Regions from separate parts of the Homo sapiens genome. Here region 2 is linked to region 1. The links come from fine-mapping of genetic effects on gene expression. A gene starts in region 1. The other region holds a variant in brackets. All regions are shown on one strand. Distances are from middle to middle.

Region 1 (16,546 bases):
GTTCCTTGGTAACAGTCCTCATGGGTTGGGGCTGCTAAAAGGATATCATCTATATATTGGAGCAAGGCACAGTTATTATTTGGCAGGGTGTAGGCCTTGAGGTCTGAGGCCAATGCTTCCTCAAAAATTGTGGGAGAGTTTTTGAATCCTTGTGGGAGCTTAGTCCAGGTGAGTTGCTCCCCTGTGCCTGTGACTGAATCATCCCATTGAAATGCAAAGAGGGGCTGACTACTTGGTGCTAGGCAAAGGCAGAAAAAGCCATCTTTTAAGTCTAGGCAAGTAAACCAAGCAGCACTTGCCGCAATGAGTCCCATTAAAGTATACAGGTTTGGTACCACTGGAGGGATGGTCACTGTAGTCTGGTTTACAGCATGTAAATCTTGCGCCAGCCTATATTCACCAGACCCTGGTTTTTGTACTGGTAAGTGGAGTGTTCCAGGGTGACTGGTATTGGACTAAGATTCCAGGATCATAGAGCCACTTTAAGTGGTTGTAAATGCCCCAAATGGCTTCTCAGGGGAGTGGGTACTGGTGAACCCGAACCGGAGTTGCTCCTGGTTTTAATTCTACTACTACCAGTGCCTAATTTACAGCCATCCCAGAGGGTTATCTTCAGCCCGTACTCCAGGAATTTTAGTAAGTAACCCAAACAATTCCTCTATCCCCAGCATATGAGGCAGGTCTGGTGCCTGTGTCTTTTTTGTGTATAGTCTCCATTCCTCAGCCTGCGGGATGGTAAGGATTAACACCATGTCAGGGAGGGGCACCAAGTCATGGGAGAGCTGCTTCCTTCTCTGGGTTTGAGTTCCCCCAGTGGCACGTGAGGTCACGGTTCTCCCCCAGCCCAGGGGCCTAGACCCACAGGCAAAGGAGACAGCAAACCTGTTGTCTCCACCCCTGCCTGGCTCACCAAAATGTTGCAGGAATCAGGAGATGAGAGAGACCAATGGTTGGAACAGGAGGATTTTATTAGGTGGCCACCAACTCAGCGGATTCATATCCAAAGGCTGAGCACCAAACAAAGACAGGGCTTGACTTTTATATATACATCTGAAAAGGGTGCAAAACCTGTAAGGTGGGTAAGCAAGCTTACAGAAGCAGAACAAAGGCAGTTTATCGAACAGTGACAGGTTTTACAACTCAGGCATGTCTTGTGACCATTGCCATACTGCACAGCTGGAAAACAGGAACTTACAAAATCCTTGCAAACTTGCAGAAATAGTTACAAAAGTAGTTGTGAGAAGAGATCAAAGGATAATGGTATAGGAAAAGAATTTCAAAGGGGGAAACTGATAAGAAGAACTTGTTTTTCTTATTCTTGCTCTGGGTGGGGAAGGTGTTGGGAGAATCTCTGGAGCTCATTCCTTTGGGCTCTGGCTTTTCAGATAGTATTATCAAGGCCCCACTAGGGCTCTGCCTATTGCTGGCCTTGGAGTGAGTTAGCCAAGTACAGGAAAACTTGTTTTTCCCTTTACTTATTTTTCTTTTTACATTTTCTGCTTCATTAACTCACATGATCACAAGGTCATCAGCAGGCTGAGGGGCAAAGAGAGCCAGTCCAAGTTGTAGAACTGAAGAACCTGGAGTCTGATAGTCAAGGGCAGGAAGCATCCAGCACGGGAGGATGGAGACCAGGCCAGTCTCTCGTTTCACATTTTTCTGCCTGCTTATATTCTAGCTGTGCTGGCAGCTAATTAGATTGTGCCCACCCAATCTGCCTTTCCCAGCTCACTGAGTCAAATGTTAATCTCCTTTGGCAAAAACCTCACAAACACACCCAGGATCAATTCTTTGTATCCTTCAATCCAATCAAGTTCACACTCAGTATTAACCATCACACCACTATTTTCTCTTCACAGGACATGAGACTTTATACAACCTGCTAAAAATGAGCTATTGCAACCTACACATCTAGAAATAAACCATCCTAGCCACGAGAGATCAGATGAAACAAGACCAGAGACTCATTTCCTTGTAAAATACTTTCTCCAAAAGATTTTTAAAAAGAAAAGGGGGGAAATGTGAAAGGAAAATATCTTGGCCCCCTCAAGCTGGGAACCACTCAGGGCAAATCTGCCTCCCATTCTATTCAAAGTCATCTTTCTGCTCACAGAGATAGATGCATATTCTGATTGCTTCCTTTGGAAATACTTAACAGAAACTCAAAAAAATGCAACCATCTATCTCTCACCTACCTGTGACGTGGAAGCCCCCAGTTGGGGGGGCCTTACTTTGAATTGTCTCCACCTTTCTGGATGGAACTGATGTACTTCTTGCATATATTGATTGATGTCTCATGTGTCCCTAAAATGTATAAAACCAAGCTGTGCCCCAATCACCTTGGGCACATGTCTTCAGGACCTCCTGAGGCTGTGTCATGGCCACATCCTCAACCGTGGCAAGATAAACTTTCTAAATTAACTGAGACCTGTCTCAAATTTTTGGGGTTCAGAATCCATAAGTCTTTTTTTATTTCTTGATGATTAAAGTCACATGAACTAAAAGGCATTACAGTGTTTATTTTTTCTTCAAAAATATTTGATCCTAGTGCTTATCCTTCAAGTCAATTAATTAGAGCTCTTTTTTAAAATAGACATCACACACTACACCTATGTAACTACACAGACAAGCAGAAGCAGATCCAGTAGTTATCAGATTTTCTGTTCTGCAATCTCTTAATTGGACTGTTCACCTCTGAGTGGGCCCTTTGAGAGCATGGCTAGGAAAGCATGCAGTTTCTAGGGCCTAAAAAACAGGTATAGCTGGAAGACAAAATCAGATTTTGAGAGGGATTCATCTGCCTCCAATTCCTGGGGCTCCGTGAGGAAAACAGAGGTCTCTCCCAAAATGGAATCTGTGGCACCTTTTCTGTTTTGCCCAAGCAGCCCCAGGCCATCAGAAATTATTTTAGGGCCTCTCATGCATGCCTTAAGGGAGAAAAAGAATTCAGCTGTCTGAGAAAAAAAAAACCTTTTTCCAACAAAACAAGATCCAAGAAGAGAAAAACATAAAGGCGTTTTAAATATACCTATAACTTGGATATCCACTTTTAGTTAAGATAAGCACTCTTTAAGAAAGTCCTTTTAAATCCCTTATTATGCAACTTTAGCCATGCCAAGCAGCCAATATTTCTAGCTTTTGAACTTTATGAAAGGTAACTTCCCAGGTGCTCACAGAAAGGAAAATTCAAGGTAGTTCATGGAGGGGAAGAGAATCAACAAATGGTAAAGGTCACAGATATCGAACCAGAAAGAACTCATTCCCTAAGCCGGGATTGAACCTGGGCCACCATTGTAAAATGGCAGAGGCTAAAACAAAGCACTGCCACATGGTTAAAGGTCATCCTTCCAAGTACATAAAATATGATGGAGGCCTTCAGCAAAGTTTGCCACTGACCAGTTTTCCAGGCTGGCTTGAGTAGAAGGCCTATAGAGTCCTAGGCCCACATCCCAACCTAAGGTACCCCTCTTTCTTACAGAACCATATAGAGAAGCATGCAAAGCACACCAGATTGGCTACAGCTTAAGACCAACCTCATGAATCCTTTTTTATAATTAAAACTCTACAAACTTTACAGAGAATATAAACAGTGATCCTTATCATTCCCTTTACCAGTTTGCACAGGAGAGTGGGGCCAAAAGCTCAACTGGTAAAATAAAAAAACCACTCTTACCCTTTTGCCAGCATGTCAGGCCCCTTTTGCCAGCATGTCAGGCTTCTGTGTTCCCTCCCCACTGAGCTCAATCCCAAGACAACTAGTTTAAAGCTTGGGAAGTTAACTTTTCCCAGTTTGGAGGCTACATCTGAGGGGAGTGTCCTGCAGCATGGGGACACAACCTTCCATCTGTGAACAGAGGACAGAGGAGGAAAAAGGAAAAATACGGCATTTTTTCAAAGGAGACCCAGGACTCAGGATGCATTCAAAGAGGTACAGATGGAAGATGAATGGCTACTCATCTAGAAAGAGAGGAGCAAGGTGTCCCCAGTTCCCTTCTTTTCCTAGCGAATACCCATGGTACATGAGGTAGAGAAAGCAAAGCATGTCTCTTTCTTTACTCCATCCTTATATTTCTGAGTTCTGGCAATCACAACAGGTTGCCACCCATGGGTATCAAAGCAGCTTTCACCCATGTTAACAGAGGGGTCTAGGGGGTGGGATCATCCTCTCTTACCCACGTATGCCCTATCTCCCCTGCTGTCAGTAGCCTTTGAGTTCCTGAACTTGGAATTGAATTTGGGACAAAAATGTTTCTGGGGGGTTGGGTTGCATGAACTCCTTATAAGCAGAATGCTAAGGTGAAGCTGTGAATTTGAGTCTTCCTCCAACAAGGGATAGAAAAGGGTGTCTTGTGAATTGGGGTCCCAACCTAGTAAAACGTCTTCTAAAAGGAAAAAAAATGCCTCTCACATAAAAGTTAACTTCTGACCTGGTGGAGAAAGGAAAAAAAAAAAACCTAAATACAACGCTGTGTTAATTGCTGAAAAATGGAGAAAAGAAAAAGATGCCTGGGGAAGAAACCTCTTATTCTTATGCAAATGAGTTTCTTCAACTGGGAGAGAAACTTTTAATTGCTATTTCTTCCCTGGGGTTTGGACTGAGCTGGACCCCTTGGCCAGGGGAGGGGAAGACGCCAGGGGTATGTGGTGGGGAACGCTGGCCAGCTGTTTGTGCAGGGCATGGGACCCTGAGGTGCCTTGGGGCCTGGGTAGTGGCTGTGGTTCATTTTTGCCCTGCGTGGCTGTTGGCCTGTGTGTGTGTGTTTGGCACGCACATGCAGCAGACACAGCCATGTGCCCCAGCCAAAAGGGAAGAGGGGCGGGGAGCAACTGCTCACCTGTCAATCCTGTACGTGTACCTGAGGCCACTGGGGTGGGGGTGAAACATCCCCAATATTGTAAAAGAAATGATAGATGCCATTACAGTTCCCCCAAAAAGAAGGAAAATGCCATAGAAAAGACTGGCTTGGACCAGGGCCAAAGTTCCTGACCCCCAAGAGTGATGGGTGTTGGGGGGCGGGGGAGCAGTTTCCTCTACCCTCAGACTTAGTGTGAGGACAAAAAGGCTCAGAAATGAAAGGGAAGGAGATTTTTGGGTCCGCACTTTACTCACCCCTCCTCATGTCCCTCTACAGGCTACCAAATGATGCAGGATTTTTTGCTCCTTAGTTCAGCTAAAATCCAGGTTTCTGTCTCACAACCAGGAAAAATTAGGCACGTGGACAAATTGAAGGATGAGGAGGGTAGATCTATTAGGCAAAAAGAAAGCTCAGCAAAGAAAGAAGTGGTCCTGCCAACATGCTACCACCTCACAGATTGAAGACCAGACCACTTCACACAAGCTGAAGAGGCCGGGCCCCTCCCCCAGCATAAGGTGTGAATTCCTGGTGGCTCCACCCCATTCTCCCAGTGAACATACAGGCCCCCAGTTCATTGTGAGCATGCCCAGGCAAGACCCTGGGCAGGTTCCCTTATCTGCCTCCTGCATCTGTCAGCTCTATCTTCCCTAATAGATGGATCGAAGTCTCAACATTGTCATCTTCTCAGAATTCTCCTTTTTCTCCTTCCTAACACAAAATGTAGTATGCCATATATACTTCTCTTAATCTTGTTTTTTAAGCTTACTGACCCTGGAAATCACTGAATATTAATGTAAAGAGATAATCCTTTTTCATTTATGACTGCATATTATTCATGATGTAGAAGCATTGCTGTTTACCTAATAGCTTTCTAATGATGGAATTAGAATTGTGCACAAACCTTTGGTAGTACACATTATCCCACAATAAACAGTTTTGTACAGATCTGATTTGATCTCTTTGGAATATAACCATTTATATTAACACCTCCCAAAAATGACATACTTAGGTATAAATCTAACAAAAGGTTTGGTATTAACTATTTCTCTATGTTCAAGTTTGCTGATAATTTTCTCTATTCTCTGTCCTGCTGTTGAGCCCATCCAGTGAGTTTGGATTTGGTTATTGTAGTTTCCAGTTCTAAAATTTCTATTACTTTCATCTTTATATTTTATATTTCTTTCCTGAGACTTTCTCATTTTTTTGTTCCAAGTCTCTATTTTTTTCATTTTAGTCAGATTTGTAATTGCTCATTGAAGCAGTTCATGATGTCTGTCTCAAAATCCTTATCAGATAATACTAACATCTGCATCATCTCAGAGTCAGCATCTGTTGTCTTTTTGTCATTCAAGTTAAGATTTTCCTGGTTTTATAAATAACTAGTGATTTTTCATTGTATTCTGTTTTTTGTATTGTTTTGAGATGGAGTCTTGCTCTGTCGCCCAGGCTGGAGTGCAGTGGCATGATCTCGGCTCACTGCAACCTCCACCTCCAGGATTCAAGTGATTCTCCTGCCTCAGCCTCCCTATTAGCTAAGATTACAGGCGCACACCACCATGCTTGGCTAATTTTGTATTTTTTGTTTTTTTTAGTAGAGACATGGTTTCACCATATTGGCCAGGCTGGTCTCAAACTCCTGACCTCATGATCCGCCCACCTTGGACTTCCAACGTGCTGGGATTACAGGCGTGAGCCACTGCGCCTGGCCTCCACTGTATTCTGAACACTTTGGGTGTTATGTTGTGAGGCCCTAGATCTTATTAAATTTTTTCTTTTATCAGGATCCTTATGATGTTGCACCAGTAGGGTAAGAATGGCATTACTTTGCTGTTGCTAAACGCTGGCATCTTTCCAGGTTCTCCACTTAATTTCTGTTGATATGCCAGGGGTAAAGGGCAGCTCACATCTGCTGTTCAAATGGAAAAGTTCATCCTCCTCTCTAGGCCTCTGTTGACGCCATCTTAGCTGGGAAGTTGAAAGATGCCTCATTACAGCTGTCCAAGTGACCTCCACTGACATTGTGAAATAGGAGCCAGTGTTTGTTTTGTGTTGCTATGAAGCAACCTGAGACTGGGTAATTTATAAAGAAAAGTGGTTTATTTGGCTCATGGTTCTGCAGGCTGTACAAGAAGCCTAGTGCTTGTATCTGCTCCTGGCGAGGTTCTCAGGAGGCTTACAATCATGACTGAAGGCAAAGGGCAAAGGGGAGCCAGTGTGTCACATGGTGAGAGAGGAAAAAAGTGAGAGAGGGAGGAGGTGCCAGGCTCTTTTAAACAACCAGATCTCACATGAACTCATAGAGGAATAACTCATTCATTACCATGAGGACACCACCAATGTATTCATGAAGGACTCACCCCCATGCTCCAAACGTGTCCCACTAGGCCCCACCTCTAACACTGGGGATTATATTTTAACATCAGACTTGGAGGGTAAAAACATCCAAACTATATCATTTTTTCCCAGGACCCCAAATTTCATGTTTTTTTTTTCACATTGCAAAACACAATTATCCCTTTTCAGTAGTCCCCTAAAGTCTGAATTCATTTTAGCATCAATTCAATTAAAAGTCCAAAGTCCAAAGTCTCATCTGATACTCAAGGCAGGTTTCTTCCACCTATGTGCCTGTAGGATTAAATGGTGGCACAGGCATTTGTCAAACATTTTCATTCCAAAAGGGATAAATTGGCCAAAAGAAAATGGGGCAACAGGCCCCATGCAAGTCTGAAGCCCAGCAGGGCAGACATTAAACCTTAAAGCTTTAAAATAATCCTTGACTCCATGTCCTGTATTCAGCCCACACTAGTGCAAGGGGTGGGCTCCCCAAGGCCTTGGGCAGCTCTGCCCCTGCGGCTTTGCAGGGTGCAGCGCCTGTGGCTGCCCTCACAGATTGGTATTGAGTGCCTGCAGTGTTTTTAGGCTAAGGGTACAAGCTGCTGGTGGCTCTATCATTCAGGGGTCTGAAGGGTGGTGGCCCTGTTCCTAGAGCTTGGCTAGGCAACCAGCTCTCATGTGAACTCATAGAGTAAGAACTCACTCATTCCTGCAAGGACAGCACCAAGCCATATATGAGGGATCCAGCCAAACACCTTCTATCACACCTCACTTGTAACATTGGGGATCATGTTTTAACATTAGATTTTGAGGGAACAAACATTCAAACTATATCAGGGCCTCATTTACTGCATGACAAGGAGGAAAGTCTCAGAACTCAACTTGACCTTCTCTGACACCACCCCAGTGAGTGGGGTGGGGGAGGGGATGCCACGTTACAGCTGGGAAGATTTGAAAGTTTAAGCTCCCCATGTGGCTTTTGCTGATGAAGTGCATGTGGGGATACAAGTTTTCCCATGACATTTGGGTGGAGAAGGATGGTTATTTTCTAAAAGTTTTCTGTCTCGCCAGACTGCTCATTTCTGAGTCCTTTGGCTACAGACAGCAAACTTCTTGAGTCTTTTTGTTCTATGTCTGTTGGCATTAAAATGTTATAGGCTTCTCCAGATTGCTTGAGGTTAAAAGAAAACTCAGGGATTCACCACCATGTTATTCCTTAGATCCCAGGGTAGGTACCTTCTCTGCATGATTTTCTCTACCTTTCTTAACCTTCTTATGTTTGTTTTCTATTTAAAATACAGTGTTTTTACTTGCACAGTAAGTCCTCACATCAGCAATAGGTTCTCAGAAACTGTGACTTTAACAGTGCAAAGTAACATACAACAAAACAAATTTTTATTTGTCTCATCAGTGTTATAATGAAACACATTGGACAAAACAATGTTATTTCAGGACCTACTGTACATTGTTTCACCTAAAGTTGCAGTTTCCAAGAACCTATTCATGACATTGAGGACTTACTATACTTACTAGGAATAATAGGAAGAAATGTGTCTACTCTATCTTTTCTGGAACCAGAAGTTCTTAGTGCTGATTCCACAAAGAAATAAATGTTGTCCGGGTGCCTGTAATCCTAGCAATTTGGGAGGCCAGATCACTTGAGCCCAGGAGTTTGAGACCAGCCTGACCAACATGGACAAACCCTATCTCTATAAAAGATACAAACAAACAAACAAACAAAAAACAGCTGCACTCCAGCCCGGGTGACAGAGTGAGACCCTGTCAAAAAAAAAAAAGAAAAAGAAAAAGAAGAAGAAGAAATAAATTTACTCCTTCTTACAGCTAGAGAGATCAAGCCAAGCTCCTTTGGGAAGGTTTCATTCTTTTCCCACCTATGGATCTTGCAGGTTACTATTTGTTCTGCCTGAAGCAGGCATTCTATTCTTCCTCAATTATCTTTCTCCCTGCGTAGAGTTTCTTCGCTCTGCTTACTAGTGCTACTGGCTTGCTACTAAGCTTTTTCCATGATTGAATGTATGTGGTTTCCTCTACTCTAATTTTTTGGGGCTATGTATACCTCATTGTAAATGATGTCTGGTATAGAAGTAGATGTTATCCACTGAGTCCAGCGGAAGACAAACCTCTTTGTATCTACCCCTCCTAAGGCAGAGGTGTCTCCAGTTTTGCATGTATGAGCAAAACAGTTTATCAAAAGGAACCTTGTCAGATTTCTAAAGAAACCAGCATAAATAGTAGAATCTTTTCCTGGCAGGAAATGGAAGGGGTCTGTAATTAAAACTGCTTCTAATTGATGGTTATCCCATGAGGCTCTGATTCTACCAGGTAAATTAGGAGTTGACAAAAATCTATAACAGAAATTCCCAAAGTTAGAGTTAATATTTTATTAAATTAGTCTTTATCCTATGTAGTTTTTATAAATTGAACTCATCTTATTGATTATATATTTTACCAAACACTATACCATAAATTCTCCACCAATCATTTTGAGCATACTTTTCTCCAAAACATTATAGTCTAATAGGAGATGCAATTTTTAAAACTCACGTATGAAACAGAAAATAGCAAGGATATAAATTTTGTCACACAAAAATGTATTGCATATTAAAGTTATAAAGAGAGTTACAGGATGTTAATGTTTTCTGGATTATTTAGGAAAGATTTGATAATGGAAGTGGAATTTGATCTTGCCCTATAAAGTTACTATAATTCAGTTCAATGGGAAAAGTGATTAGACAGTCTAGACCAATGCAATGACACCAGCAAAATTACAAACCTGTGCTGTCAGGGGACATAGACTGGAGGTGAGGAGACAACCCAATTCCAATTGTATTAAATTCGGAAGTGAGTATAGAAATGGCAGGATGAGAGCAAGATATTCTTCAGAGCCTATTATTATTTCTGTAGAATTGAAAGTTCCTTGTTGCTAAGTAGCTAAATCTAGAATTTAGTCACCTGAGAGACAAAAGGGAGAGGGCTTATGTTTCCCTTTGTTCTGTGGCCTCAGCTACAAACCATTGATAAAGCATGGTATAAACCATCTAGACAGAAATGGCCATGGAAACTACTGTTTCTTCTGATGGTAAGTCATTCATAAAGTTTGGTTCTATGCATAATTTGGTATCCAGAGTAGTCCACTGGATAATGTGAAGTCTCTTAATTTTTGTTTTGTTTTCATTTTTTTTGTTTGTTTGTTTGTTTTGAGATGGAGTCTCACTCTGTCGCCCAGGCTGGAGTGCAGTGGCGCGATCTCAGCTGACTGCAAGCTCTGCCTCCTGGGTTCACACCATTCTCCTCCCTCAGCCTCCTGAGTAGCTGGGACTGCAGGTGCCCGCCACCACGCCTGGCTGATTTTTTTGTATTTTTAGTAGAAACGGGGTTTCACCATGTTAGCCAGGATGGTCTCGATCTCCTGACCTCGTGATCCGCCCTCCTCGGCCTCCCAAAGTGCTGGTATTACAGGCGTGAGCCACCGCGCCCGGCGTGTTTTCATTTTTAAAGATATGAGTGACTTGAGCATGGATGTAGGTAGGGTGACCAACCATTCCAGTTTGGTTGAGACTGAGGGGATTGCTGGGTGCAGCACTTTCAGTTTTAAAACCAGGACAGTCCTGGGAAAATCAGGATGAGGTAGTCACCTCAATTGCCAGTAAGGAATAGATAAAGTAGTAGAAGATGAAGATGCAGTTGAGAATAGGGAAAATTAATAGAAACAGTCCTCAAGTAGGTGGGAGAGATGATCTGGAACCATGAGGGGCTAATGAGACTAGAGAGGTAGTAAGGTAGAGAAGAGGTGGATATAGGCAGATTCAGATGGTGAAAGGCCCAGAAACCATTTTATCTTTGAATTTGGCGTGTGTGTGTGTGTGTGTGTGTATCATATTCCAGAGAAAGAAATCCACTTTATATTATGACATTGTGGCTTTACACACACTTACACCCCACATATTTGGCACTGTGTGTGCAAGGTTGCTAAGGATCTTCTAGGGATGCCTTCTGATATTTCTGTTCTATTTCCTCAAGGAAAAAGACTGCAGGCTATAGCCAGCTGAATTACTTCCATGACTCTAATGGGACAGATATTAGTGACAGACAGATAGGAAAACAGTGCATTAGGGCATTGGAATAAGAGGGAAGATGGGTAGAGAGCGGTCTTGATGAATTTGAAATAGCTGTGGGGAAAGGAAGAGTTTATCAAACATGCAGAAGAGGGCTGTTGGCTCACCTGATAGTCCGCTGACATTAGAGGACATGGATTTACGGTGGTACCACTTCACAGTATCCATGGTAGAATGATGGTACTTCAGGAGCTTTGGTCTCTGTAAGTCCTAGGAATGAAGACAATGAGTCTGGTTTTAAAGATTTTTTTAAAGTTATTCTCCTGTTATTGCCTGCTCTCATGCTGAGCTCCAAGAAAAAGAATAATATGACACAGGTTGGTGTAGCTTATCAGTCCTTTCCACAACATTATATCTTTGATTAGTTCTTCCCATTTTCAATCCTCCCATCCACAACAACTGTCACTCCATAGTAAGTAGAAAACATATCAAGAGAGATATAGAGAGCAAATCTGGCAGTTAGAATTTCATCCCAATTCAGAGATCTTTGTTCTTGGAAGTTTTGCCTATGAACTTTGCTTTTCTCTTCCATGCTACTTGCACCTTGTGGAATAAGGTGCCTAACTTGCAGCAGTGAAAACTGCCCAGATGAATCCAGCCTCTTTAAGCAAGTTAATGGCAAGGATAATGTTCAGCTTGAAACAAGTTTTCCCCATCTTCCAGCATCCACATAGCCAGTCTAGGACAAGAAAAGGAAAAAAACCTTAAATACTTTATATTAGAAAGGAAAGGTACTTGGTTAACTAATTCTACTGTGATTGAGAGACAATGAGAATGGATTTTCAGCTGCTGGCACTATACATAAATGAGGAAAACTCAGAAGATTGAGGAGGTGCAAATGCAATATCCAGGAGAATAAAGAAAAGAGCAATATGGCATAGGAAGTTTTGAAATATCTACTGGATTTTATATCTCTATTCCTTAGGCTGGGGATCCAGGACAAGCCATTTCAGTTTTGATTTCTATATTCTCTTTTTAAGCCTTTCACAAACACATTGGTTTTGGGATTTTTTTTTTTTCAGAGCAGCATTAGTAGCTTTGATGTAGGAGTGGAGGAAGTATGTGAAGAATTAATGCAGTTCCTGCCCACCCCCCATTCCCCGACAATCTCTGTCACATTTAGGACTCTCTAGAGTCAAAGATTTTGGCATACAGTGCTTGAAGGGATGAAACTGGTAGCAGAGCTGAATGGATTGGAAGACAAGAACATTAAGAGAAATGGGGGATGATGAAAGAAAAGTATTTGGGTTTTCTTTGGGTTTGAGAAACAGGTATAGCAGAAGTAAGGGGGAGAGCTGGGAGAACTAAAATTGTTGGTAAATTGATTAGGATATATGAAATTTTTTGTGTGTTGACAAGGTATACATTATGACTATGAGTGGGTGGGCTGAATTACACTGAAGATGAATTGAAGAGGTTAAAAAAAACTTTAAAAAACCCTGTCTTGTTTTCAGATGGGTTTTCTATATACTTGCTAATATTACTTTAAGTTGAGGGTAGGAATTTTGGTGGAGAATAATTTTATCAGTCAGAGGCCAGAGCCTTTGAATTTTGTCCAAGTGTGATAAGGGTGGTTGAAGAGACATCTAAAAATAGTGTAGTCAGATATTGCAGGATAAATGATTTGGTGTTCATGTTGTGGGCTGTGGAGAACAGGAACTCTGGTCCTTGTGGTGCATGTGACTTCTGAGGATGGAGTTTCTCAAGAGGAAGCCTTTAGGCAAGCAGTAAATTCTATTAAAGCTCAGGTTCAATACGGTAAGTAGATGTAGGGAGCTTTCTGTGAAGAGGTACAGGATGGAGTTGGTTCTCTCTCTCTCTCCTTTTGTCTTTAAAGGAAGACTCCAGAAAGCACAAGGGAAGGTATAAGAAGAGAATATAAGGAAACTTGAATCAGGGCAAAGAAAGCATTGATTAGAAATGGATTCAAAATCCAGGAGATGATTGGTGTTGGGTCAGGCATGTTCATTTTTATATCTTCTGTGTAAGTCCTCTTAGATTAGCTTGATTTAAGTGCTTTTCCTTTTTGTTCTTATAAGAAATAGCACCTACCTTCATCAATATGTTGATCACAGTCAGAGGTGAAATTAAGTTTTTGGGCCTGATGCACGTACAAGATGAGGGGCCCACTTTAAGAAAAATAATACCAAGTTACAATTGCAGAAAATAAGTATGAAAATGAGGATTTATTTAGCATAAGAAAGAAGCTGCAACAAATTATAAATATTAAAAGGTTGAAAACACCATAAACATCACAAAATTTAATCCCCTCAGTATTACATTAATCAACTTCCTAACTCACTTTTATGATACCTTTTCCCTATAGTTTTTAAATTGCTTATTTAATTACCTCCCTTAAGAGAATTATTTTGTTATAATTTCTACGGCAAGAACTGAAAGGCATTTGCCTTTCCCTAGTATGTTTAATAAAAATTCATTTTGTATTATTAATAGTTTAGAAAAGAAAATTCAGCTTCACAGCTTGTTATTGGTAATGAGATAAATAATTAAATTTACTATTGTCAAATTTTAGAAAACCTCTATTAAGTCTTTTATGTATGCGATGTAATATTTCAGGGTGTTTGAGATTTTTCTTGTATAGTGACTAATTTTGATTACTCATAATTATATGACTTTCATAAAGTCCATTGCTGAGCCCCTTACAGGGTCTTTATAGAGGTCTGTACAGTGAGGATCCCTGAAGCATAAACTTTGTCTGGTTTTGATCATATTATATTATAATTATCTGTTTTTTGTTTGTTTCTACACATGCTCAGTGCTTACTAGCCTCACTTTTGACAGTCATTTGAGACTATGATGAAATATATGGATACTCTCCTCAGCAAAAAAAGTCATGAAATACATAAAATATTGAATACAATATTACTGACCTCCTAAAGCTTATTCTTGCTCCTGCCACAGTTTCTGCACTAAATTGATAATTTATTTAATGCTCTGTATTTTGATTTTCTTTCTCTAATATCTAGCACAATGTCCTGCACTTTGTATGCTCCAAACACATAAAGACTTGTTTAATAAATAGAAAAAGAAATGGATAAGTGTTGCCAGCCAGACTGTATGACAGGTGCAGAAATTCCCCACTTTCAAAAACTGTTGGTAAATATATTTGAGCAAACACTCAGACTCTTCCCTGGCGATCCTAAAATACTAGACTCTACAATGGTTTTTGCCCTAATAAGAAAAGAGTTCCTTTTCGGAAGACCTTTAAACTGCATAGATTCTCATTTTCTCTTCTGAAAGCATTTCGTTTTGTCTTTGGGACTCTCCTGTAGCTAACTGGAGAGAACAACATTATTCTCTCCATACCCTTAAATGATGTCAGTGTTTCATGAATTTTCTTTTCTAAAAATTATACTACAATATGAACACATTTTAGTAGCATTCACTTATAATCCAAGACATTTTGCAATCCCTCCTCCGTTTTTCCATTTTTCATTGTACATAGAGCTATATGAGGCATTACAGAGGATACTAAAATGAACGAAAATCATAAACCCTGCAGTCAAGAATCTTTCAGTCTAATGAAGTTATGAGTAAAGATGAATACAATGAGGAATAGTAAATAACTTTGAGATAAAGAAACTAAAGTATATCATAAGACTGATGCAACTTGACACAGAATTGTGATTATTTTTGATGTCTCCAGTTTTGATAGTCAAAGGAGACACTATCAATAGATATTGCAAGGGCAACAGGCATAAACTAATATTATCTTGGACAATTTGATATATAGAGTCACCCTACTCTTAAGTTTCTTTACTTTTGCTTTTACTTTTTATTATGGACATTCCATACTGCCTGTAAAGACTGAGATAACTATTTAAGTACCCATCTTCCAACTTCAACTATTATCACCACGTGGCCAATGTTGTCTCCTCTATACCCCCTAAATCCCCACCCTCATTTACTAAAAGCAAATCCAAAGCATTTTCTTGATTCATCAACCAGTTTTTCACTACTTCATTCTTTTTCTCTCCTGATTCCTTACTTATCACCTTTCCAACCCATCTTTTTATTTTTACTTCCAGCACTGCAGTTCTGATCTAACTCTGCCAGGACACAGATCCACAGGGTCAGCCCTGCATCCTGAGCAGCTTAGAGGGAGAAGCCAGACCAGCAGTGCCTCACACCTTGTCCTCTTCTGCTCTGGACAGATGGCTCCATAACGACAGCTTCATAATGGCAGTGGATGGGACCCTCGTGTACATCAGAGTCACTCTTCTGCTGCTCTGGCTTGGGGTATTTTTGTCTATTTCCGGCTACTGTCAGGCTGGGCCCTCCCAGCATTTCACTTCCCCGGAAGTGGTGATCCCCTTGAAGGTGATCAGCAGGGGCAGAAGTGCAAAGGCTCCTGGATGGCTCTCCTATAGTCTGCGGTTTGGGGGCCAGAAACACGTTGTTCATATGAGGGTCAAGAAGCTCTTAGTTTCTAGACACCTCCCAGTGTTCACCTACACAGATGACCGTGCACTCCTGGAGGATCAGCTCTTCATCCCAGATGACTGTTACTATCATGGTTACGTGGAGGCAGCCCCTGAGTCTCTGGTTGTGTTCAGTGCTTGTTTTGGGGGCTTTCGAGGAGTATTAAAAATAAGTGGCCTCACTTATGAAATTGAACCCATCAGGCACTCTGCCACATTTGAACACCTGGTTTATAAGATAAACAGTAATGAGACACAATTCCCAGCTATGAGATGTGGCTTAACAGAGAAGGAAGTAGCACGCCAACAGTTGGAATTTGAAGAGGCTGAGAACTCAGCTCTGGAACCAAAATCTGCTGGTGACTGGTGGACTCATGCATGGTTTCTGGAGCTAGTTGTTGTGGTGAACCATGATTTCTTCATTTACTCTCAAAGCAACATCTCAAAGGTGCAAGAGGATGTATTTCTTGTTGTCAACATAGTGGATTCCATGTATAAGCAGTTAGGTACTTACATAATTTTGATTGGAATTGAAATTTGGAATCAAGGAAATGTTTTCCCAATGACAAGCATAGAACAGGTCCTGAACGATTTCTCTCAATGGAAACAAATCAGTCTTTCCCAGCTACAGCATGATGCTGCACATATGTTCATAAAAAATTCACTTATAAGTATACTTGGCCTAGCCTATGTTGCAGGAATATGTCGTCCACCTATTGATTGTGGAGTTGATAATTTTCAAGGAGATACCTGGTCTCTTTTTGCCAACACTGTGGCC
Region 2 (16,546 bases), 20 kb before region 1:
GTATTATTGCTTTAATTTTCAAGTTCTTGCTGCAAGTTGCACTGCTGACCCCAGCTATTGATGACAGCAGATAGCCACAAGGCATTTACAATTATTTTATCTTCTATTGTCCTTTTTGATTGGTACTCTTTATTCTTCTGTATATATATGCTATCTTTATAAGAAGTCTAATTCAGACCCCTGGCTCTAATGCCATTAATATGCCAGCTGTCATGTCTCTTCACTGAGCTTCAGTCTTGTGTAACCCAGTTGCCTACCTAACATCTCAAAATTTAGATGCCTAGCAGGCATCTTAAATTATGATAAAATGAGAATTTCTAACCCTTATACCCCTAAACTGATACCTCTCTTAGCTGTTCCCCTTCCTTGAGTAACTCAGTTTACTCAGTTCATATGAATATCTTAAGAACAGCTTTTGATTCCATTCTTTCCCTTGCATTCTACATTCAACCCATCAAAAGTATAGCTGTTGCTATGTATGAAATACAGTCTATCTGACCATCTCTGATACTACCAGCTTATTACAAACCACCAGTATGTATTGCCTCTACTTCTACTGTTCTTCCTGAATGTTTTTTCTGCTGCTCACTCGATATCTCCCATCTATTCTTCCCTCAGCTGGAGCAATCTTACAAAAATGTAAATCAGATCATGTCATGCCCCAATCTAAATATTTCAGTCATTTCCATCTCATGTAGAAAAAAATCGATATCCTTAACATTGCCTCTAAGACCAGATAATCTGGCTTTTGTCAAGCTCTCTAACTCGTCTACTACCACAACCCCCTTCCCTCATTCATTACATCTACACTGAACTTTTTTCTGTTTCTCAAACAAATACATTTGGTTTAGTTTAGATCTTTGCATTTGCTGTGCCATCTGCCCCACGGCTTCTTGTTCACTGCTTTATCTCCAGTACCTATAAGAGTTGCCAACACAAACTTGGCTTTCTTTTTGTTTATTTTTTTAAATTATTTTTTGTAGCAATAGGGTCTTGCTGTATTGCCCAGGCTGATCTAAAACTCCTGGCCTCAGGCAATCCTCCTGCCTCAGCCCCTGCAAAGGATTGGGATTATGGGTATAAGCCATCGTGTCTGGCCTTATAATAGGCTTTCAATGAATGAATGAATTTTAGTGATGATGAAACTTAAACTCAGTCACTTGCTAAAGATCACACTGCAGTTGTCATTTGCTGTCTCATCACCTGCTGCAGTCAATAGTGTACTAGTTCTACTGCCTGAATTCCTCTCAGCTGTTCTCACTGACATTGCTGATGCGCTCAAAATGAGTCACATACACCAGTGGAACAGAAGAGAAAGCCCAGAAATAAACCCATACATCTACAATGGACTAATTTTTTGACAAAGGTGCCAAGAACATACATTGGGGAAAAGACAGTCTCATCAATAAATGGTGCTAGGAAAACTGGACGTCCATATGCAGAAGAATGAAACTAGACCCCCTGTCTCTCAACATACATAAAAATTTAAAAAATGGATTAAAGACATATCTAGGACCTCAAACTATGAAACTACTACAAGAAAATATTGGGGGAAACTCTACAGGACACTGCTCTGGGCAAAAACTTCTTGAGTCATACCCCAAAAGCACAGGCAATCAAAGCAAAAATGGACAAATGGGATCACGTCGAGTTAAAAACCTTCTGCAAAGCAAAGGAAACTATCAACAAAATGAAGAGACAACCCACAGAATGGAAGAAAATATTTTCAAGCCACTCATATGACAAGGGATTAATAACCAGAATATGTAAGGAGCTCAAACAACTTTATAGTGAAAAAATCTAATATTTCAATTTAAAAAATGGACAAAATATCTGACTAGACCTTTCTCAAAAGAAGACATACTAATGGCAAACAGGTATATGAAAAGATGCTCCACTTTGGGAGGCCGAGGTGGGCGGATCACGAGGTCAGGAGATCGAGACCATCCCGGCTAACACGGTGAAACCCCATCTCTACTAAAAATACAAAAAATTAGCCGGGCGTGGTAGCGGGCGCCTGTAGTCCCAGTTACTCGGGAGGCTGAGGCAGGAGAATGGCGTGAACCCGGGAGGCGGAGCTTGCAGTGAGCCGAGATCGCGCCACTGCACTCCAGCCTGGGCGACAGAGCGAGACTCCGTCTCAAAAAAAAAAAAAAAAAAAAGAAAAGAAAAGATGCTCAACATCATCGATCATCAGCAAATGGAAACTATAATAAGATATCTTTTTACCCCAGTTAAAATGGCTTTTATCCGAAAGACAGGCAGTAACAAATCCTGGCGAGGATGTGGAGGAAAGGGAACACTTGTAACTTGGTGGGAATGTAAATTAGTACAACCACTATGGAGAAGAATTTGGAGGTTCTTCAACAAACTGAAGGTACAGTTACCATAAAATCCACTAATCCCACTGGTAGGTGTTTAGCCAAAGGAAATTAAATCAGTATATCAGAGATGTCTGCAATCCTGTGTTTATTGCAGCACTATTCATAATAGCCAAGATTTGGAAGCAACCTAGTGTCCATCAGCAGATGAATGGATAAGGAAAATAGTACTCCATTGTGTATATGTATTACACAACTCCGATCTCTATGGAACTTTTATGGTGTGCTACATTGTGTATATGCAAACCTATACAATGTATGCGTATACGCATACCCATACAATGTATGTGTATACATACACCCATACAATGTATGTGTATATGTATTACAGTGCTCAATTTTGTGTATATATATACATATACATACACATATACAGTGTACACATGTAAGTATATGCCCACATATACATATACATATGTCCACATATGTAATACATTGTATGTTCACATATATGTAATACATATGCAATGTATTTGTATGTATACATGCATGTATGCAATGTATTTGTATGTATACATGCATGTATGCAATGTATATGTATACATGCATGTATGCAATGTATATGTATACATGCATGTATGCAATGTATATGTATACATGCATGTATGCAATGTGTATGTATACATGCATGTATGCAATGTGTATGTATACATGCATGTATGCAATGTGTATGTATACATGCATGTATGCAATGTGTATGTATACATGCATGTATGCAATGTGTATGTATACATGCATGTATGCAATGTGTATGTATACATGCATGTATGCAATGTGTATGTATACATGCATGTATGCAATGTGTATGTATACATGCATGTATGCAATGTGTATGTATACATGCATGTATGCAATGTGTATGTATACATGCATGTATGCAATGTGTATGTATACATGCATGTATGCAATGTGTATGTATACATGCATGTATGCAATGTGTATGTATACGTGTATGTATACATGCATGTATGCAATGTGTATGTATACATGCATGTATGCAATGTGTATGTATACATGCATGTATGCAATGTGTATGTATACATGCATGTATGCAATGTGTATGTATACATGCATGTATGCAATGTGTATGTATACATGCATGTATGCAATGTGTATGTATACATGCATGTATGCAATGTGTATGTATACATGCATGTATGCAATGTGTATGTATACATGCATGTATGCAATGTATATATGTATGTATACATGCATGTATACATTGTATATGTATGTATACATACACGTATACGTGTATGTATACATTGTATATGTATGTATACATACACGTATACGTGTATGTATACATTGTATGTGTATGTATACATGCATGTATACGTGTATGTATACATTGTATGTGTATGTATACATGTATGTATACGTTGTATATGTGTGTATACATGTATGTATATGTATATGTATACAATGTACACGTATGTATAGAATGTACATATATGTAATACATATACAATTACATATATATGGACATACAATGGAGGTCATTATGTGTGACCTCCATGTTGCACTAAGCAACAAAGGTTGAGATTACAAAAGCTGCTTATAAATTAGAGCTTCTTCTTAAGAGAAAACACCCCTGGGAGCTGGCACAGTCAGACGAGGAGAGTCCTGCTTGTCACTTTGCATCTCAAGTTCCCAGCCTTTTGGCTGGCTGCCAGACATGACTTGACAATCATGTTCCCCAAGTGGCAGAGACCAGAGAGAGAGAACTTCTCACTTGGTTACAAAGCCAAGCTCTCAAGACATAAAACAAGATGAAATGAGAATCTTCATATGATTTTCCCCCTTATAACAAACTACCCCAAAAGACAAAAGGAAAGCAAAGATTAACTCTGGGGGGAAAAGATCAAATAGAAAACAAGACTACTCACAAACACCAAAGTCACTTTGCCCCCAAAACTAGTTCACATAAATATTTTCTCCTGCCAGTCTAAATTTAGAGAGGGAAAGAGGAAGAAAAGAGTCTTACCACTCTCACCTTGACCATTCTCCACAGGCAGAGATCCAGCAGACTGACAGTATTAAGAATTCTTACCTTTGCTGGCCTTTTGTCAGAGGGCCAGGATTTCAGGTGCAGCAGTTTCGAGCAAGCAGTGTTCCAGCCAGTGAAGGATGCCCCACGTTGGGCACCAAAATTTGTAGGGAATGTACGGATCACCTCCACCCATCTCTGACTGGGTCTAGGAATGATATTGATGCAAGATAGATTAAGAGGAGAAAAGGATACAAGTTTTATTACTTTTTACATGTACAGGGGGATCCTCACAAGAGAGTGAAGATCTGAAGAAATGGCCAAAACAGAAAGCTTTTATATTTTTTTAGATGAAGAACAATACGTCTATGAGGAAATGACAGGACAAAAGGATCTAGGCTAAGGGCAGTAATTCCAGGAAGGTCACTAGGAGATATACTGGGGAGGGGTAAACCTAGTAGAAGGTAAGGGTTATTAAGTTTATTTGTACAGGTCCATTGCAGCACCATTTCCAGTCTCTGGTAATAGGGTTACTGTCTTGTCCTAGTACAGGAAAACCATCTTCCTCTATGTGCTGAGACCAGCTCAGTCGTGGAGACCCTAACCCAGTGGTGCTGGAGGAATTAAAGACACACACACAAATACAGCATGTGGAGTGGGAAATCAGGGGATTCACAGCCTTCAGAGCTGAGAGCCCCAAGCAGAGTTTGACCCACATATTTATTGACAGCAAGCCAGTGATAAGCATTATTTCTATATATTATAGATTAACTAAAAGTATTCCTTACGGGAAACAAAGGGATGGGCCGAAACAAAGGGATGGGCTCTGGCTAGTTATCTGCAGCAGGAACATGTCCTTAAGGCACAGATTGCTCATGCCATTGTTTGTGGTTTAGGAACGCCTTTAAGCAGTTTTCCACCCTGGGTGGGCCAGGTGTTCCTTGCCCTCATTCCAGTAAATCCACGACCTTCAGTGTGGGTGTCATGGCCATCAAGAACATGTCACAGTGCTGCAGAGATTTTACTTATGGCCAGTTTTGGGGCCAGTTTATGGCCAGATTTGGGGGCCTGTTCCCAACATCTATGGAACTTTTTTTTTTCTCTTTTCAACAGAGTCTCACTCTGTTACTCAGGCTGGTGTACAGTGGTGTGATCTCAGCTCACTGCAACCTCCACCTCCCAGGCTCAAGCAATTCTCATGCCTCTGCCTCCTGAGTAGCTGAGATGATAGGCATGTGCTGCCACACCTGGCTAAATTTTTTTTTTTTTTTTTTTTGAGACAGAGTCTTACTCTGTCACCCAGGCTGGAGTGCAGTGGTGCAATCCTGGCTTACTGCAACCTCTACCTTCCAGGCTCAAGCAGTTCTCCAATTCTCCTGCCTCAGCCTCCCGAGTAGCTGGGATTACAGACATGCACCACCATGCCTGTATATTTTTTATAAAATATTAATTGTATTTTTATATACATTTATATGTATGTTTTAAATAAAATATTATATTGTATGTTTTATATATAAAAATATAAAAAATAATTTTTATATTTTTAGTAGAGATGGGGTTTCACCATGTTGGCCATGCTGGTCTTGAACTCCAGACCTCAAGTGATCCACCCACCTCGGCCTCCCAAAGGAATTCTTATATTTTTAGTAGAGATGGGGTTTTGCCATGTTGGCCAGGCTGGTCTTGACCTCCTGGTCTATATGGAAATTTTATGGTTTGCTACATGTGGAAAACAGCAGGTCAAATGGCTGTTACTGCAAATGCAGTTTTTGAAGTGCTTTCAGCTTGAAATAATCAATATGCCAATTTGGCATATTTTGGGGTGGCATATCCTTAACTCCTTCACATAACAACCTGGACCCACAGCAAGGTCATTTCTTGTTTTGGGCCCTACTCAAAGATGATCACTTCATTATTGTCTAGTGTATGGGCCAGAGTAGTATTCATAGGTGTGAAATGTTTGCTTCAACAACCCATGGAGGCATATAGCAGGCACCACCTTTTTCTTTGTGCTAGGGAATGCAAAATGCGGCAATTTGCCTTTACTTCAAGGGTATATCCCACCATGGTTTTAACCACTGTACCCTTAAATACTCTAATAAAGTATCATGTCCCCAAATCTTTCCTACCCCTGGAATGCATATCTCTTAATAAGACCTCCAGTGAACCAACAATGCAGCCCCATCAGCATGATACTCAATGAAGTGAATCCGTATAAGGTTTTCTGTATGTTCAAACAGTCTAGATTTCCTCAGATTATATTATGCCAGAGGCAGGTGAAATAACATAGCCCTGGAGGCAAGCCTATAAATAAATATTTGTGTCCACGCTATATGAGTGCAGATTTTTTTCTGATGGCTCTTTTATTATCAGAATAGAAAATAACACATTTTCAGTTCATTGGTTGCATCCTATGCACCCAAGACCGTATTAATCTGATCCAGCATGTTAACTTCTCTGGTGGAGAGGCTAAAATGAGAGCACATAACATATGCTTTACTATGAAGTTGTATTATCAGGATTAGGCTAGCCTCAGAATATGAATTTGGAATCTTGTTTCTTTTTTTTTTTTTTTTAGTTTTAATTTTAGGTTTGGGGGTACATGTGTACGTTTGTTACACCGATACACGTGTCACGGGGGTTTGTTGTACATATTATTACATCACTCAGGTATTAAGCCCAGGACCCAATAGTTATCTTTTCTGCTCCTCTCTCTCCCAGCCTCCCCCGTCAAGTATTCCCCAGTGTCTGTTGTTTCCTTCTTTGTGTTCATAAGTTCTTATCATTTAGCTTCCACTTATAAGTGAAAACACATGGTATTTGGTTTTCCGTTCCTGCGTTGGTTTGCAAAGGATGATAGCCTCCAGCTCCATCTATGTTCCCACAAAAGACA[C/T]GATCTCATTCTTTTTTTCTGGCGCAAAATATTCCATGGGGTATATGTGCCACATTTTATTTATCCAGTCTGTCACTAATGGGCATTTAGCTTGATTCTATGTCTTTGCTATTGTGAACAGTGCTGCAATGAACATTCACGTGCATGTGTCTTTATGGTAGAATGCTTTACATTCCTCTGGATATATACTCAGTAATGGGACTGCTGAGTTGAATGGTGGTTCTGCTTTTAGCTCTGTGAGGAACCGCCATACTGTTTACCACAATAGTTGAACTAATTCACACTCCCACCAACAGTGTATAAGGGTTACCTTTTCTCCACAACCTCACCAGCATCTGTTACTTTTTGATTTTTTTTCCTGAAAGTTTTAATTTTTCTAATTTTTATTTTACTTTCAGTTCTGGGATATATGTGCAGAATGTGCAGGTTTTTTACATAGGTATACATGTGCCATGGTGGTTTGCTGCTCCTATTAACCGATCATCTAGATTTTAAGCCCAGCATGCATTAGGTATTTGTCCTAATGCCCTCCCTCCCCTTACCCGCAACCACCCAACAGGCCCCAGTGTGTGATGTTCCCCTCCCTGTGTTCTCATTGTTCAACTTCCACTTATGATTGAGAACATGCAGTGTTTGGTTTTCTGTTCTTGTGCTAGTTTGCTGAGGATGATGGTTTCCAGCTTCATCCATGTTCCTGCAAAGAATATGAACTCATTCTTTCTTATGGCTGCATAGTATTCCATGGTGTATATGTGCCACATTTTCTGTTTCCAGTCTATCATTGATGGGCATTTGGGTTGATTTCAAGTCTTTGCTATTGTGAATAGTGCTGCAGTAAACATATGTGTGCATGTGTCTTTATAGTAGAATGATTTATAATCCTTTGGATATATACCCAGTAATGGGATTGCTGTGTCAAATGGTATTTCTGCTTCTAGATCCTTGAGGAATTGCCACACTGTTTTCCACAATGGTTGAACTAATTTATACTCCTACCAACAGTGTAAAAGCAATCACATTTCTCTACATCCTCTCCAGCATCTATTGTTTCCAGACTTTTTAATGATCACCATTCTAACTGGTGTGAGGTGGTATTGATTTTTTTGTGGTTTTGATTTTCATTTCTCTAATGACCAGTGATGATGAGCTTTTTTTCATGTTTGTTAGCCTCATAAATGTCTTCTTTTGAGATGTGTCTGTTTATATCCTTCACCCACATTTTGATGGGGTTATTTTTTTCTTAGAAATGTCTTTAGTTCCTTGTAGATTCTGGATATGAGGCCTTTTTCAGATGGATAGATTGCAGAAATTTTCTCCCATTCTTCAGGTTGCTTGTTCACTCTGATGATATTTTCTTTCGCTGAGCAGAAGCTCTTTAGTTTGATTAGATCCCATTTTTCAATTTTGCCTTTTGTTGCAATTTCTTTGGTGTTTTAATCATGAAGTCTTTGCCATGTCTATGTCCTGAATGGTACTGCCTAGGTTTTCTTCTAGGGTTTTTCTGGTTTTAGGTTTTACATTTAAGTCTTTAATCCATCTTGAGTTAATTTTTGTATACAGTGTAAGGAAGGGGTCCAGTTTCCGTTTTCTGCATATGGCTAGCCAGTTTTCCCAGCACCATTTATTAAATTGGGAATCCTTCCCCATTGCTTGTTTCTGGCAGGTTTGTCTAAGATCAGATGGTTGTAGATGTGTGATATTATTTCTGAAGCCTCTGTTCTATTCCATTGGTCTATATATCTGTTTTTGTACCAGTACCATGCTGTTTTGGTTATTGTAGCCTTGTAGAATAGTTTGAACTTGGGTAGCATGATGCCTCCAGCTTTTTTTTTTTTTTTTTTTGCTTAGGATTCTTGGCTATATGGGCTCTTTTTTCGTTCCATATGAAATTTAAGGTAGCTTTTTCTATTTCTGTGAAGAAAGTCAATGGTAGCTTGATGGGAATAGATTGAATCTATAAATTACTTTGGCAGCATGGCCATTTTTGTGATATTGATTCTTCGTATCCATGAGCATGGAATTTTTTTCCATTTGTTTGTGTCTTCTCTTATTTACTTGAGCAGTGGTTTGTAGTTCTCCTTGAAGAGGTCCTTCATGTCCCTTGTAAGTTGTATTCCCAGGTATTTTATTTTCTTTGTAGCAATTGTGAATGGGAGTTCACTCATGATTTGGCTCTCTCTGTTTGTCTATTATTGGTATATAGGAATGCTTGTGATTTTTGCACACAGATTTTGTATCCTGAGACTTTGCTGAAGTTGCTTATCAGCTTAGGAGTTTTTGGGCTAAGACTATGGGGTTTTCTAAGTATACAATCATGTCATCTGCAAACAGAGACAATTTGATTTCCTCTCTTCCTATTGAATACCCTTTATTTCTTTCTTTTGCCTAATTGCCCTGGCCAGAACTTACAATAATATCTTGAATAGGAGTTGTGATGAGGGCATCCTTGTCTTGTGCCAGTTTTCAAAGGGAATGCTTCCAGCTTTTGCCCTTTCAGTATGATATTGGCTATGGATTTGTCATAAATAGCTCTTATTATTTTGAGATATGTTCCATCAATGCCTAGTTTACTGAGTGTTTTTGAAGGTGTGTTGAATGTTATCGAAGGCCTTTTCTGCATTTATTGAGATAATCATGTGGTTTTCGTCACTGGTTCTGTTTATATGATGGATTTACGTTTATTGATTTGTGTATGTTGAACCAGCCTTGCATTCCAGGGATGAAGCTGACTTGATCATGGTGGATAAGCTTTTTGATGTGCTTCTGGATTCTGTTTGCCAGTATTTTATTGAGGATTTTTGCATCGATGTTCATCAGGACTGAAATTTTCTTTTTGTTGCATCTATGCCACGTTTTGGTATCAGGTTGATGCTGGCCTCATAAAATGAGTTAGGGAGGAGTTCCTCTTTTTCTATTGTTTGGAATGGTTTCAGAAGGAATGGTACCAGCTCCTCTTTGTACCTCTGGTAAAATTCAGCTGTGAATCCGTCTGGCCCTGGGCTTTTCTTGCTTGATAGGCTGTTAAATACTGCCTCAATTACAGAACTTTTTATTGATCTATTCAGGAATTCTACTTCTTCCTGGTTTAGTCTTGGGAGGGGATAAATTCCAGGAATTTATCCATTTCATCTAGATTTTCTAGTTTATTTATTGATTCTTTTCTCTTTTCTTGTTTATTAGTCTGGCTAGTGTTCAAGGGCAGGAAGCATCCAGCAGTGGAGAAAGGTGTGGCCTGGGAGGCTAGGCCAGTCTCTCTTTTCACATTTTCCTGCCTGTTTATATTCTATCAATGCTGGCAACTGATCAGATTGTGCCCACCCAGATTAAGGATGGGTGTGCCTTTCCCAACCCACTGAGTCATATGTTAATCTTATTTGGTAACACCCTCACAGACACACCCAGGATTAATACTTTGCATCCTTCAATCCAATCAAGTTGACACTCGGTATTAACGATAAGAAGACCACCCCTTGTCAACTTGAACCCATATACAACTCCTGAGATCATACATAATCTTCAAATAAAGACAATAGTAAGGTCATAGTTACCCCTAACATAACACAACTATTCTTCGTACAACCGGAAACGCACCAATCCCATACCCAAATACTATTATATAATGTTAACAATACTTAAATGCTGATATGAAGTCAATAAATCTTATGTCACAAGATAAAGGAGAAAGGAAATAAACTGAAGATGTTTTCTTAGTACAAGTGTATACATGCACAAACATGTTTTTAACAAAGAAGGAGGAAATACTCATGACGATTACAGTCCTCATTTCTATAGCTGATCACATGATCGTAACTGGTACTGATGACTTCCTTCTACCACTACCCATTCAGTATTCCTTTTGCCTTCAGCAAGCACCTCAGCAGGTCGCGTTTTTTTTCCTAGTGGAATGACCCAAGCCTTCATTCCTGAAGAGTCTGGGCTATCTGTGGTCCTGCCTGGATTGGGCTGTTGTAGTTTCCCATTGACCTGAATCACAGGGCATGGTAATACTAAGAGATGCCCTAATGGATCTCCTGTATTCTATGCATACTCTTCCTTCCCTTCATTGTGTGTTAGTAGACTGATTTCATCTTGATAGTCCAGGTCAATCATGCCAGCTAACACAGTAATTTTCTTCTTAGCCTGTTGACTTAAAGGTAGGAGGAGTCCAAAGTGTCCAGGTGGCAATCTTAACTTCCAGTTTAATGGAATTGTTGTGTCTCCTGGTGGCAGCATTCCTCCCTCTTGAACTAAGACCTCTAGGCCAGCAGAATGTAATGTCGTAGGAACAGGAAGCAAAAATTTTGCTAGTGGATCACTGGGGTGATGGATGGTGAGTGGTGCCACTTCCACTTCCACCCCTTGATTCCTGGACCAGTGAATCCTGGCTATAGGAGAAACAGTACCATATATTGGATGCTGACTCAGAGCATACACGGCCTTCTGGAGAACTTTGCCCAAAGCTTGCAAAGTCCTGTCACCTAGTAGGTGTTGTAATTGTGACTTCAAAAGACCATTTTACTATCAATCCAGCTGCTTCAGGATGATGGAGAACATGGTAAGACCAGTGAATTCCATGAGCATGAAACTACGCCACCACTTCTTTAGCCATAAAGTGAGTGCCTTGGTCAGAGGCAATGCTGTATGGAATACCATGATGGTGGATAAGGCATTCCATGAATCCACTGATGGTAGTCTTGGCAGAAGCATTGCATGCAGGATAGGCAAACCCATATCTGGAGAAAGTGTCTATTCTAGTGAGGACAAACCTCTGCTCTTTCCATGATGAAAGAGGTCCAATATAATTAACCTGCCACCAGGTAGCTGGCTGATCACCCCGAGGAATGGTGCCATATTGAGGGCTCAGTGTTGGTCTCTGCTGGTGGCAAATTGGGCACTCAGCAGTGGCCATAGCCAGAGCAGCCTTGGTAAGTGGAAGTCCATGTTGCTGAGCCCATACATAACCTCCTTCCCTGCCACCATGGCCACTTTGTTCATGGGCTTATTGGGCAATGACAGGAGTGGCTGGGGAAAGAGGCCAAGTGGTGTCCACAGAATGGGTTATCCTATCCACTTGATTATTAAAATCCTCCTCTTCCTCCTCTGCCGAGGTCACTCGTTGGTGAGCACTCACATGGGATACAAATGTCCTCACAGTTTTGACCACTCAGAGAGGTCTGTCCACGTACCTCTTTCCCAAATTTCTTTGTCACCAATTTTTCTGCCATGCTTCTTCGAAGTCCCTGACCATCCAGAGAAACCATTGCTACAGCCCATGAATCAGTATATAATTGCACATCTGGCCATTTCTCCTTCCATGTAAAGTGCACAACCAGGTGCACTGCTCAAAGTTCTGCCCACTGGGAAGACTCCTTTTCACTGCTGTCCTCCAGGGAAGTCCTAGAAAGGGACTGCAGTGCTACAGCTGTCCATTTTTGGGTGGTACCTGGATATCGTGCAGAACCATCTGTCAACAGGCCCTACGTAGTCTCCTCTTCCTCTGTCAACTGATCATAGGGAATTTCCCATGAGGCCGTCGGTGCAGGCTGCGGGAGAGGAGGCAGGGTGGCAGGAGTGGAGACCATGGGCATTTGAGCCACTTCCTCATGTAACTTACTTGTGCCTTCAGGACCTGCTCGAGCCAGTGTCCAGTAGTCCCCGAAATGTCTGATCATTTTCCCTTTCCCCAGTGCACAGTTACCCTGGTAAAAGGCTGGATTTGGAGATCTCCTTGGGGAAGGATGGGAGAAAGATTAACTGCATAAATTGTTGGTGATGTAGTGGGGTCCTTCCTCAAGGGGACTCAGCCTCCCCTTCATTCAAGGGGTTCTGGGTCTGTAAACTGGCTCAAGTCTGGAAATTGATTGAGGGGCTGTGATTCTCTGTTTTTATCATTCGAATTAGTCTTTTGTCCATTTGACCTAGAAGTTTTCTGCTTGTATAAATTAAGTAGAAATGCAGTAGGCTTCCTATCAATTTCACTTCTAGGAACACCATGATTAATTAGCCAATGCCAGAGGTCTACACAAGTCACACTATTCTGATTGCTGCTTTGCCTCTGCTGTCCATTACAATAGCTAGGCCCATCTTGACTTTGATGGTTGAGTGCTGCCACTTGGCCTCTGCCACTTTGGGATCCAATTATTCCCATTGTATATAAATTTTGTAGTTGAGTGACTGCAGTTCCCATGGTTAGATCTGACATACAGAGAAGAGCAATTACAGGGCTCTTCAAAGATGCAGGTGCTGCCCTCACAAATCTATTTCTCAAGACATTGGTCAAGGTTATATCTTCTGGATCCTCCCAGCTGGGATGAGTAGGTCTAAAGTGACTAATCCAGTCCACCATCCCAATATCCCTAAGCCTTCAGATCCTTTCCTCTACATTAAATCAAGGGAGATCAGGCATTTCCAGTTCACTCATAGTGGGCCATCTTTAAATCCATATTTCAGGTAACCAAAAAAAAAACTGATCATACCCTTTTTTAACTCCCCAAGCTGCAACATTAAATGCAGAGTACTAGTTAGAGGGCCCAGATCAATAAATACAGCCTGATTCAACACTATATTCCTTCCACCATTATCCCACACCATTAATATCCATTCCCATGCCTGTTATTTAGATTTCTGTTTATGTAAATTAGAAAACTCAAGCAGTTCTTTTCAAGTGTCACACACTTCCTCATGGGTCACACTCTCAGTCTCACCTCTAGGTACCTGCCAGTTTAGTCTACTTATAGGTCTAGAAGCAAACAGGGGCATTGGGAGTGGCTCTTGAGGAGAATAAACATTATCTTGCCTGGTGATTGCCTCAGGGGAGGCCATCACTATTGCCTCAGGCAGCACAGGGTTTATCTCCTCAGACAAAGGTGGAAATGCTGATTGCAGCATGGGTCAGGGAGGCGATGCTGCTGCTACTGGGGATAGGGTAGCTGTTTCTTCTGGCAAAAAAAGAAAGTCTCATCAGAGTTTACAAACTCAGTGTCCCCAGCTTCATCAGGGTCCTCCTTCACATCCCCATTCCAAGATGCAGGGTCTCATTCTTTTTCAATCAATGTCCTCACTTTAACAATAGACACCTGACAAGGCTGGGTATGCAACTTTTGTTCCAGGTCAGCCACTCACATGATAAGAGCTTGTCTCTGTTTTTCCATAATTTCAGCTCTTTCTCTACAGGAGATAAAACTGTCACTCAGGGCAATCTTAGCAGATTTGAGGCTCAGCATCTGCCTCTGAGGCCAGGAGATAAAATCCCTGAGTTCATCATTTTCTTTCATCACTTTGTCTGCTAGACTTAGGAGCAACCAACCAGTTTCATTATGTTCCCTTGTTCTCCACATATGGTCAAAGGTATTATGTATTGAGTCACTAAACTCCTTGCCTCTCACGAGCAATGAATCAGGGTGTCAAATGCACTTATTTTGCCTAACTCTCTAAACAGTTCATGCCAAGTACTATCAGTGTTCTCCATACTATCAGAAGTAGAGTCCTTAGCATTTTTGGGTCTAATCATATTAAGCAACCAACCACAGAAACCCCAAAACCAACAAAAGAACTCCATCCTTAATATTCTGTTCCTCTAGAATCACTCCTGGTACCAAAATCTGTATTAGTCAGGGGGACAGAACTAATGGAATACATACATACATACAGATAGATAGATAGATAGATAGGAGTTTATTAAGTATTAATGTTGTGGGAATCAGGAAACCAGAGAGACCAATGTGTGGAAGAGGAGGATTTTTTTAGGCGGCCACCAATTCAACAGATTCATATCCAAAGGCTAAACACCAAACAAAGACCGGGCTTGACTTTTATACATACATCTGAAAAGGGCACAAAACCTGTAAGGTGGGTAAGCAAGCTTACAGAAGGAGAACAAAGGCAGTTTATCAAACAGTGACAGGTTTTACAACTCAGGCATGTCTTGTGACCATTGCCATACTGCACAGCTGGAAAACAGGAGCTTACAAAATCCTTGCAGACTTGCAGAAATAGTTACAAAAGTAGTTGTAAGAGCAGATCAAAGGATAATTGTATAGGGAAAGAATTTCAAAGGGGGAACTGATAAAAAGCATTTGTTTTTCTTATCCTTGCTCGGGGTTGGGGGGGTGTTGGGAGAGTCTCTGGAGCACGTTCCTTTGGGCTCTGGCTTTTCAGATAGTTTTATCAAGGCCCTGCTAGGGCTCTGCCTATTGCTGGCCTTGGAGGTAGTCAGCCAAGTACAGGAAAAGTTGTTTTTCCTTTTACTTAATTTTCTTTTTACGTTTTCTGCTTCATTCCCCGCTTTGGTGCTTCCTATAAATGAAGTTTAATAGAAAGCATCATCATCAAATTTTAATTCTTCATGGGGAGTTAGTTCTTACTTGGCAAGGGCTGCTATTTGGTTAGAGCCATTAGCTGAGTAGTTTGGCTTGTTAGAAGAGCCTCTATTGCTGATTGGATGTTTTTGACAAGGAGGGGTAAGAGACAAGGGAGTATTAAGCAACCTCCTAATATGGCCAGAACTATTCCTACTAAGGTCCTGAATCCTCCGAGGGATGAAAACCAGCCCCCGAAGAGGGAGTCTGGAGACCATCCCCTCCACATCTGGACTGAAACATGGGCTAATTTTTGGATTTTTACAGTTATATCTTCAATGACTTTTCCATTGTCATCAATTTCTAGGCAACAATTAGATTGAACTTTCCACATACCCCTCCCTCCTGGGCTAGGAGGTGGTCTAAGGCCAATCTATTTTGATAAATAGCGTGTCTCATTTTTGTGGCTTGCTTGGCCAGCAGATTTAAGGCTCTTGCAGTGTCATTAGTAATGATTTCAAGCACTGCCTGCAACCTTATGATGTGGTTGGGCATGTAAAAGGGGTGTGGTATCCATACATTCCATCTTCTGCCCAGGTGGCCGGGCCATAATGTTGGATTATTCTCTCAGGGGGCCATTCATTATCCTTCCAATTCCCTATGGCTATGCCCCTTTTATTTCTCCTTTTAGTTTCATCATAAACAGGGTACCTGAGGCTTCTCCCTGCTTTAGAGGGATTAGGAAGAAGGACGTTCTAATTGTTCCTAGTACACAAGCTCCTGTCCATTTAGCTGGCAGCTGCCGATATGCCTGCAGTCCACAGATCCAATAGAGGCTAGAGGGTGCCTGCCAGATATTTGGAACATTAAGTTGGTACCAAGAGTTGTTTAAGGAAGGGAAACTGGATGGGCTTGGGTGGGGCAATGCAGAATTATATTTCCCGTCCCACCATAAAGTTTTCCCTACTGTTTCATTGGAATATTG

What was found. PIP is the estimated chance that this variant, and not a neighbour inherited with it, causes the effect.
Region 2: its variant is fine-mapped to the expression of ADAM21 in fibroblasts (GTEx, PIP above 0.99).

Annotation. Positions count from the first base shown.
Region 1 is chr14:70,441,974-70,458,519 of GRCh38, forward strand. ADAM21 (ADAM metallopeptidase domain 21) reads left to right here and starts at 10,201. Exons shown (of 2, transcript NM_003813.4): 1 at 10,201-10,290; 2 at 15,376-16,546. The coding sequence starts at 15,527. It overlaps LOC124903339 (a long non-coding RNA gene), which reads left to right. Exons shown (of 2, transcript XR_007064237.1): 2 at 1,860-2,508.
Region 2 is chr14:70,421,512-70,438,057 of GRCh38, forward strand. All of the region lies in intron 1 of LOC124903339 (a long non-coding RNA gene), which reads left to right. Among named protein-coding and RNA genes, the nearest start is that of SYNJ2BP-COX16, 13 kb to the left of the region's middle. RefSeq lists a silencer at 3,948-4,148. The variant C/T (reference allele first, on the strand shown) is at 7,265.